2 separate regions of the Homo sapiens genome follow, and region 1 is linked to region 2. Evidence: fine-mapped expression QTL. A gene starts in region 2. The other region holds a variant in brackets. All regions are shown on one strand. Distances are between the middles of the regions.

Region 1 (4,221 bases), 22 kb before region 2:
ATTTGCCTTTTCTAGCACGTTGTTCTCTGCCCATGTCCTGTGTTGCCTTTTATTTATAGATGTTGTTCGTTGCCTGACTTTTTGTTGTTGGCTTTCCTCAAAGCCGTTATCCTTCTCATTGGGAGTTTAGTTGAAATTTTTTTATTGTTAAAATGGTTGAAATGATTCTTTCTTAGACTAAATTATTCCTTTGACCTGATTTTAGAAAGCAAAGTAAATCCAGACTTTTAAATTTTTTGTTGTTGTCAAAGGAAAGCCTATTTTTTATGTGGGAGTAGAAAACTTCCCAGTGTAAAGACACATTTTATAAAGGTGTGATTTTGGTTTGAGGTTAAAATATAATACAGCATGAATTATGTAATTAATTACAATTACTTGATATATTTTGATATAGTACAGCTTGAATGAGTTGTAACAAACCATCCATTAAGCATGAGTTACATTTTGTGTGTGTGTGTGTGTGTGTGTGTGTGTGTGTGTGTGTGTGTGTTTATTTACAGAGCTGTGGCAGCTTATCTTCGTGCCCTAAGTTTGAGTCCAAATCACGCAGTGGTGCACGGCAACCTGGCTTGTGTATACTATGAGCAAGGCCTGATAGATCTGGCAATAGACACCTACAGGCGGGCTATCGAACTACAACCACATTTCCCTGATGCTTACTGCAACCTAGCCAATGCTCTCAAAGAGAAGGGCAGTGTAAGGATTTTTACTCATTCTATTTGTTATCTGGTAGGATTAAGAGTCTTTTCTGGCCAGGTGTGGTGGCTCACACTTGTAATGCCAGCACTTCGGGAGGCCGAGATCAGAGGATTGCTTGAGCTTAGGGTTTCGAGACCAGCCTAGGCAACATGACGAAACCCTGTCTCTACAAGAAATACAAAAATTAGCCGGGCATGGTGGCACACACCTGTAGTCCCAGCTCCTTGGGAGGCCGAGGTGGGAGGATCGATTGAGTCCTGGGAGGTTGAGGCTGCAGTGGGCCATGATTGTGCCACAGCACTCCAGCCTGGGCAACAGAGCACGAGACTCTGTCTCAAAAAAATCACAAAAACCAAAAAACAGCAAAAAAGGAAAGTCTTTTGTACAAGTATTGAGATGGTATATTGGTTTACTTTAGAGTTTTGGTTGAGGGTAAGAATACCAAAAAATATCAATTTTCTGTAGCATTACCAGCCATTAGGCTTAATTAAACAATTATTAGAACAGTATCAGTGGAGGCTTTATGATTCTGTACAGTTTTTGAAGACTTTGTTTTGTTTTCTAGGTTGCTGAAGCAGAAGATTGTTATAATACAGCTCTCCGTCTGTGTCCCACCCATGCAGACTCTCTGAATAACCTAGCCAATATCAAACGAGAACAGGGAAACATTGAAGAGGCAGTTCGCTTGTATCGTAAAGCATTAGAAGTATGTGAGGGTGGTGTAGCTGGGCATTTAGCATGATAGTAGAGGGAAAGCAGTTAAGTTTACCATCATCCACCTCTTTTGTAAAAATAGTGGTTGAATCATTTACAAGAGGATTATTCATTGAAGTAACAATTGAGTACCTAAGGTATGATGTGAGGCCCTATGTGACATTCCAGAAAATCCCTGCATTCAGAGTTCATTATTCTGTGGATAAGATCTGTACAAAAAAATTAAACATTAACCCACAGTTCAAGAGAAGTTACTTATAAGTATATAATCTTAGTGCCTGATGGCTGTATGGTAGTGGTTAGTAGATGTGGTAGGAGTTTAGCAGAGAGAGATTTCAGTGGTGTTGGAGTGGTCAGGATAAACTAAGAGGAGAAGAGGTGTACCTCATTATGTTTGAAACAAGAAGAGGTATAAAATAGAGGAAGAGGTAGAATTTGAGAATGAATAGACTTGGAAAAAGTAGAGACAAATTTAGGGGTTTAAATGTACTTGAGCAAAGTTCTTAAGGTTGTGGTGAATTATTACTGCTGCTTTAGCAATTTTTTTAACCTCAGTTCTGATCTTGACTCTTTATAGGTCTTCCCAGAGTTTGCTGCTGCCCATTCAAATTTAGCAAGTGTACTGCAGCAGCAGGGAAAACTGCAGGAAGCTCTGATGCATTATAAGGAGGCTATTCGGTAAGAGACACTAACAGCCTTATTTTTAAAATTATTTTTAATTTTAAAATGTTTGACATTCGGCACATTGCAGATGCTAAAATGGCTTTAAATAACAAC[G/A]GAATAAGTTAGCATTACAGTGGGTTAAAGATTTTTGTATTGGAGAAATAAAACCTTTGGCTTCTCTTTTAGAATCAGTCCTACCTTTGCTGATGCCTACTCTAATATGGGAAACACTCTAAAGGAGATGCAGGATGTTCAGGGAGCCTTGCAGTGTTATACGCGTGCCATCCAAATTAATCCTGCATTTGCAGATGCACATAGCAATCTGGCTTCCATTCATAAGGTACTACTGTTTATTATAATATGTGCAGTTTAACACCTAAAATTTAACTTTTGGAAATTTTTTACCATCCTGCTTTATTTATTTTCCAGGATTCAGGGAATATTCCAGAAGCCATAGCTTCTTACCGCACGGCTCTGAAACTTAAGCCTGATTTTCCTGATGCTTATTGTAACTTGGCTCATTGCCTGCAGGTAAAGAATAACAGGCCAGTAATTGGCTCTCAGTGTTGTAATAGCTTTTTAATTGTTGTATGCCATAAGAATCCAAGCCTGACTGGAAATAGTATTTTTAATAGGCTATCTGACATTACTTTAGGCCAAAGACATATCAAATATTAAATCCTGGGATAGGACTTTCTGGATAATAACTTGTTTTTGCTTTCTCTAGATTGTCTGTGATTGGACAGACTATGATGAGCGAATGAAGAAGTTGGTCAGTATTGTGGCTGACCAGTTAGAGAAGAATAGGTTGCCTTCTGTGCATCCTCATCATAGTATGCTATATCCTCTTTCTCATGGCTTCAGGAAGGCTATTGCTGAGAGGCACGGCAACCTGTGCTTAGATAAGGTGTGATTCTTTTGTTTTAATCTTTTTGTTGTAAACTAAAACACAAATACAGAAAACTGTAAAAATCAAATCTGTGGCTTAATGAACGATTATAAAGTGAACACCACCCAAGTCGAGAAATAAAACTTTTGTGGGCCACTTCAGAACCCCTTCCATTGTGTCCTGAGTATAACCCCCTGCACTTCATAAGACGGAATCCTTAACTCCTTCACTTAAACACTAATGATAGACTGATGGTACTTTTCTTTAAGTTGAAAGCCATAATTTTTTTTTCTTTTATCTTTTTTTTCTTTTTTTTTTGAGACGGGGTCTTGCTCTGTCGCCCAGGCTGGAGTGCAGCGGTGTGATCATGGCTTACTGCAGCCTTGACCTCCCCGAGCTTAGGTGATCCTCCCACCTCAGCCTCCTGAGTAGCTGGGACTACAGGCGCATGCCACCACACCTAATTTTGTGTTTTTTGTAGAGATGGGGTTTTGCTATGTTGCCCAAGCTGGTCTTGAACCTCTGGGCTCAAGTGATCTGCCCACCTCGCCCGGCCAAAGTGCTGGGATTACGGGTGTGAGCCACCGCGCCTGGCCAGCCATCATGTTTAATGGAGTGCTTGGTATTTTGTATTCACCTTTGAGAATTAGAGCAGTACTTGATCAAGGATTGGATCAAAGGTTGGATAATAGATTGGAGTGCTAGGTGTACTTTTTTTTTTTTTTTGAGACATAGTGTCTCTGTCATCCAGACTGCAGTGCAGTGGTGCCATCTCAGCTCATTGCAACCTCTGTCTCCCAGGTTAAAGTGATGCTCGTGCCTTAGCTTCCCGAGGAGCTAGGATTACAGGCGTGTGCCACCACGCCTGGCTAATTTTTGTATTTTTAGTAGAGATAGGGCTTTGCCATGCTAGGCTGGTCTCGAAATCCTGACCTCAGGTGATCCACCTGCCTCAGCCTCCCAAAGTGCTGGGATTACAGGCATGAGCCACTGCCCCCAGCCATAATTTTGTTTTTAGAAAATGTTTCCCTATAGAATTTTCTAAAATGCGGGAGGAAACCATGCTCTGTCCATACTGCTTCATACCTACAAGTGTTAGATTTGCTCGTACTTTTTTTTTTTTTTTTTTTTTTTTTTGAGACAGGGTCTTGCTCTGTTGCCCAGGCTGGAGTGCAGTGGCACAACCTTGGCTTACTGCAACCTCCACCTCCCAGGTTTGGGCGATTCTCCCACCTCAGCCTCCCAGGTAGCTGGGA
Region 2 (4,181 bases):
TCCCAACTACATGCGAGGCTGAGACAGGAGAATCGCTTGAACCCGGGAGGCAGAGGTTGCAGTGAGCTGAGATCGTGCCATTGCATTCCAGCCTGGACAACAGAGTGAGATGTCATCTCAAAAAAAAAAAAAGACAAAGCCTGTGATCCCCAACACACCCATTCATGCTTGCTCCTCTTTTGCTTGTGACCTCTCTGCTTTCATTTACCCTTGTAGTCTCGGTTTTCATGTGGACCATTCTTTTCTTGGCTCTTGGGGGCAAAATTATTTTCCTTCCTGCTCTGTATAGTGGTCGAACTCTGCCACAAGCATCAGGGAGGAAGATATCAATTCATGATTGATATCATGAATTGATATCATGGCAAATGCTGTTTGCCAGTTTTCTCAGATATGAGAGGGAAGATTTTTTTCAGTAAAATTTTGCATGATTTAATTCCCAACTTCTTAAAGCCCTCATGTGGATTGGTGTTTGTTTCCTAAAAGATTATTATGGGAAGAAAGCCTACTCAAAAGTTTTTACTCCCATTCGCTTCTCTTGAAAAATCTACATTATTTCCAGTCTACTTCAGCTCCTCCTGCCTTCAATCTAAAGGAGTTGCTTGCACACCTTGAGTAAATGTGTGTAATTTCTGAACTGCCCATTTTAAGATTTGATTCCAAACCTATCCCATTCTTTTACTTGAAGCATATGCCTCTCAATTATAGCTAACATCCTGGTTCTTTGCCCAAGCCTCTGAGGCACAGTTATGTAATCCCCATTCTTATAAAGAGGCTTGTAGAGGTTAATTTGCAACTTCATTGTAGAGAGAGAGAGTAATCAGCCCCCTTTATCCAATTTTTTTATCAACTGAGAAAGTATCTGTATTTAGGTAGGCAATCTGGTGCTTAAGAGCAGGTTTTGGAACTAGAGTTGGAGTTTGAATCTCAGCTCTGCCACTTTTTTTTTTTTTTTTGAGATGGAGTCTCGCCCTGTCCCCATGCTGGAGTGCAATGGCACGATCTCGGCTCACTGCAACCTCCGCCTCCCAGGTTCCAGCGATTCTCCTGCCTCAGCCTCCCGAGTAGCTGGGATTACAGGCGCGGGCCACCACACGCGGCTATTTTTTTTTTTTTATCTTTAGTAGAGACGGGGTTTCACCATGTTGACCAGGCTGGTCTCAAGCTCCTGACTTCGTGATCCACCCGCCTCAGCCTCCCAAAGTGCTGGGGTTACAGGCGTGAGCCACTGTGCCCGGCCAGCTCTGCCACTTTCTAGCTGTGTGATCTCTAAAATGAGAGTGCTAACAGTTGCCTACTTTTTAAAGTGTTGTATGAATTAAGTCGTAAGACACTTGGAATAATGCTTAGCACAAAATAGTATCAAACGCAGGGACATTTTATGTGTGTTCTGTTACCCAAAGGCATACATTACGAAATATATAGATGCTCGCTGGAGAAACTGGCACAATCTAGAAAGCGCTGTTTTCCCCGTTTGTTTTTCTTGGTGTGTATGGAGTGAGTGCCAAAAAGCCTCAAGTAACCTTTTTTTATCTCCAGGGTTTGGAGGGTTCTGGAAGTAAACATCATAGTTCGCCGTTGCCAGGCGCTGTTGAGTTGCTGCCTTGCTCTTATCTAGGGGTCTAGATGGCCTTCCCTGCAACCCCCGCCCCCCTGCGCTCCCGCGTCCCCCCGCGCCCCGCCCTCCCCTCGGTGTTCCCGTCCACGCCCCTGCTCCCGCGCCTTCGCTCCAGTTCTCGTGCCCCCGCCCCTCCCCCCGCGCCCTTTCCCAGTGGTTGCAATAACGGACTTAGAGGTCTGGACAATTCAAGTAAGGAACAAGGCTCGCTTATCCAAGTTCTCGCAGGATAAAAGTTTGTTATGAACGATTTCACATGGTTTCTCTTTATCAGAAAGTTGTTAGGGACTTTTAATCGCAGAATTGGCCTCGGGTGCCCACGCTCTAGTATTGAAATGGCGGTTTTGGGACAAATAAGCAACATCCGTGGGAGTGGAAAGCGACAGACCTGATCCCGGAAGCGTTACAGCTAGGCGCCAAGTTCACAGGCGCGAAGTTCAAATTTGTCTTGTGACCACTGTGATAGGTGGGTACAGGGGAGCGCGGGCGAGCACACGTGAATTACTGCTACCGCCCCCTAGGTCCGGGCACTATAAAGGGGCCTGCGCCTGGCGTTGTTCATCGCAGTTGCTCCGGATCTTTGCACACACTCCACGGGCAGTTGGAGGTGAGCTGCTGCCGGCCACGCCAGAGGCTGCAACACCAGGTAGGTGACCGGCTGGTCGGACTGAGATGGGTGCTGAAGTGGTCCAGAGGTTAATCCTAATTGAGTGACTTAATTAAAATCAGGACCACTGTATACCTTGGACTCTGGTTGCCCGTGTAGGCCTGAGGTGGGAGTAGAGGAAGTGGCAGCGAGGGGAGAAGTGGAGGCGCCAGTGGTAGCATTGGGGGAGGTGGGGGCGCCCATGGTGGTGTAGGAAACATATGGTGGCGCCAGTGGCGGCATTGGGAGGGGTGGGGGCGCCGGTGGCGGCGTAGGAGCAGCTGGTAGTGCCAGTGGCGGCGTGGGGAGAAGGGGCGCTGGTGGCGTCATTGCAGATAGTGGGGGGCCTGGTGGTGGCGTAGAAGGAGGTGTTGGTGCCAGTGGCGGGTGGAGAGAAGTAGGGGCACCAGTGGCGGCGTTGGGGGAAGTGGGGGTGCCTGTGGCAGTGTCGGGGAAGTGGGGGTGCTGGTGGTGGTGTAGGAGCATGTGGTAGCACCAGTGACGGTGTGGGGAGAAGTAGGGGCACCATTGGCGGCCTTGGGGGAAGTGGGAGCGCTGGTGGTGGCGTAGGAGCGTGTGGTGGCGCCAGTGGCTATGTAGGAATACGTGGCGCCGGTGGCGGCGCGGGGAGAAGTGAGGGCGCTGGTTGCGGCACTGGGGGGAGGTGGGGGCCCCAGTGGTGGTGTAGGAACAGGTGGTGTCCCTAGTGGCGGGTGGGGAGAAGTAGGGATGCCAGTGGCAGCGTGGGGGGAGGTGGGGGTGCCAGTTGCGGCCTAGGAGTACTTGGTGGCGTTGGTGGCATAGGAGCACATAGTAGCGCTGGCGGTGTGGGGAGAAGTGGAGGCGCCGGTGGCCGCATTGAAGGTGGGGGTGCCAATGGGGGCGTTGAGGGAAGTGGGGGGTTCTGGTGGCGGCGTAGGAACACTTGGTGGTGGTGGAAGTGGCCTAGGAGCACGTGGTGGTGCTGGTGGGCGTGGGGAGAAGTGAGGATGCTGGTGGTGGCATTGGAGGTGGGGGTGCCAGTGGCTGTGGGGAGAAGTGGGGGTGCCCGTTGCAGCATTGGGGGGAGGTGGGAGCTAGTGGTTGTGGGTAGGGGTGTGTGTGTGGGGGTTGAGGTCTCTTTGGCTGAGGACTGAGTGGTGGTGGGAGACAGGAGTGGGGTAGGGCAGAAGTTGGATAGAAGTGTGGGGGAGTGGAAGCCTGCTTGGAAAACCGGTTGGGAGCAGTTGAAGGTGGCTGGAGGTGGTTGGAGGTGCGAGTGTGGGGGAAGGGTGGTGGGGTTGAGGCCTGATTGGTGGAAGACTGAGGTGAGAATGGTGGGGGTAGGGTCCAGACCTGATAGGAGGAAGGAGTTGGGGAGGGGTCAAGGCCTGTTTGGTCGAAGATTGGCTAGAGGCTGGAGGCAGGAATAGGAAGCGTGGAGGGGGTGGCCGGATTCATATAAGACCAGTGAGAAGCCAGAGTGGCGGGAGGTAAGGGGGCAGTGGAGGTTGGACAGAAGGAAGAAGGTGATGAGGGGGCGGTGGTAGCCTATTCTGGGTAAGATTGACAGAGTGGGGAGTAAAGAGGTAGGGGAAGGGGGAGAGGTTGACACCCGGTAGGTGGGAGACTTCCTTGGGGCAGGAGTAGGGGGACTGAAGGTTGTAGGGAGGTGGAGGGCCAGTGGGATGTGGGGGCGGTCGAGCCCTGATACGTGGAAGACTGGCAAGTTGAGGTGGGAGTGGAGGGAGTGGGAAGTGGGGGCGGGTGCAGGGTGGGAAGAGATTGGGGTGGTAGAGGCCTGAGTGGGAAAAGTTTGCAACAAAACAAATTTAAATCCTTTTCATTTTGCAGAGCAAAGTTTCGGCTTTAAGGTGGGGAAGATACCCAAAGATAAATGCAGAATGTAAATGTAGAGATGTCTCTGCTTTTGAGTTCTGG

The links. PIP is the estimated chance that this variant, and not a neighbour inherited with it, causes the effect.
Region 1: its variant is the best candidate, but not a certain one, in a credible set for the expression of GCNA in blood mononuclear cells (TOPMed, PIP 0.52).

The regions. Positions count from the first base shown.
Region 1 is chrX:71,554,690-71,558,910 of GRCh38, forward strand. OGT (O-linked N-acetylglucosamine (GlcNAc) transferase) reads left to right here. Exons shown (of 22, transcript NM_181672.3): 7 at 501-696; 8 at 1,265-1,405; 9 at 1,991-2,091; 10 at 2,263-2,416; 11 at 2,506-2,607; 12 at 2,804-2,983. Among named protein-coding and RNA genes, the nearest start is that of GCNA, 22 kb to the right of the region's middle. The variant G/A (reference allele first, on the strand shown) is at 2,191.
Region 2 is chrX:71,576,262-71,580,442 of GRCh38, forward strand. GCNA (germ cell nuclear acidic peptidase) reads left to right here and starts at 2,176. Exons shown (of 13, transcript NM_052957.5): 1 at 2,176-2,261. RefSeq lists an enhancer at 2,383-3,024.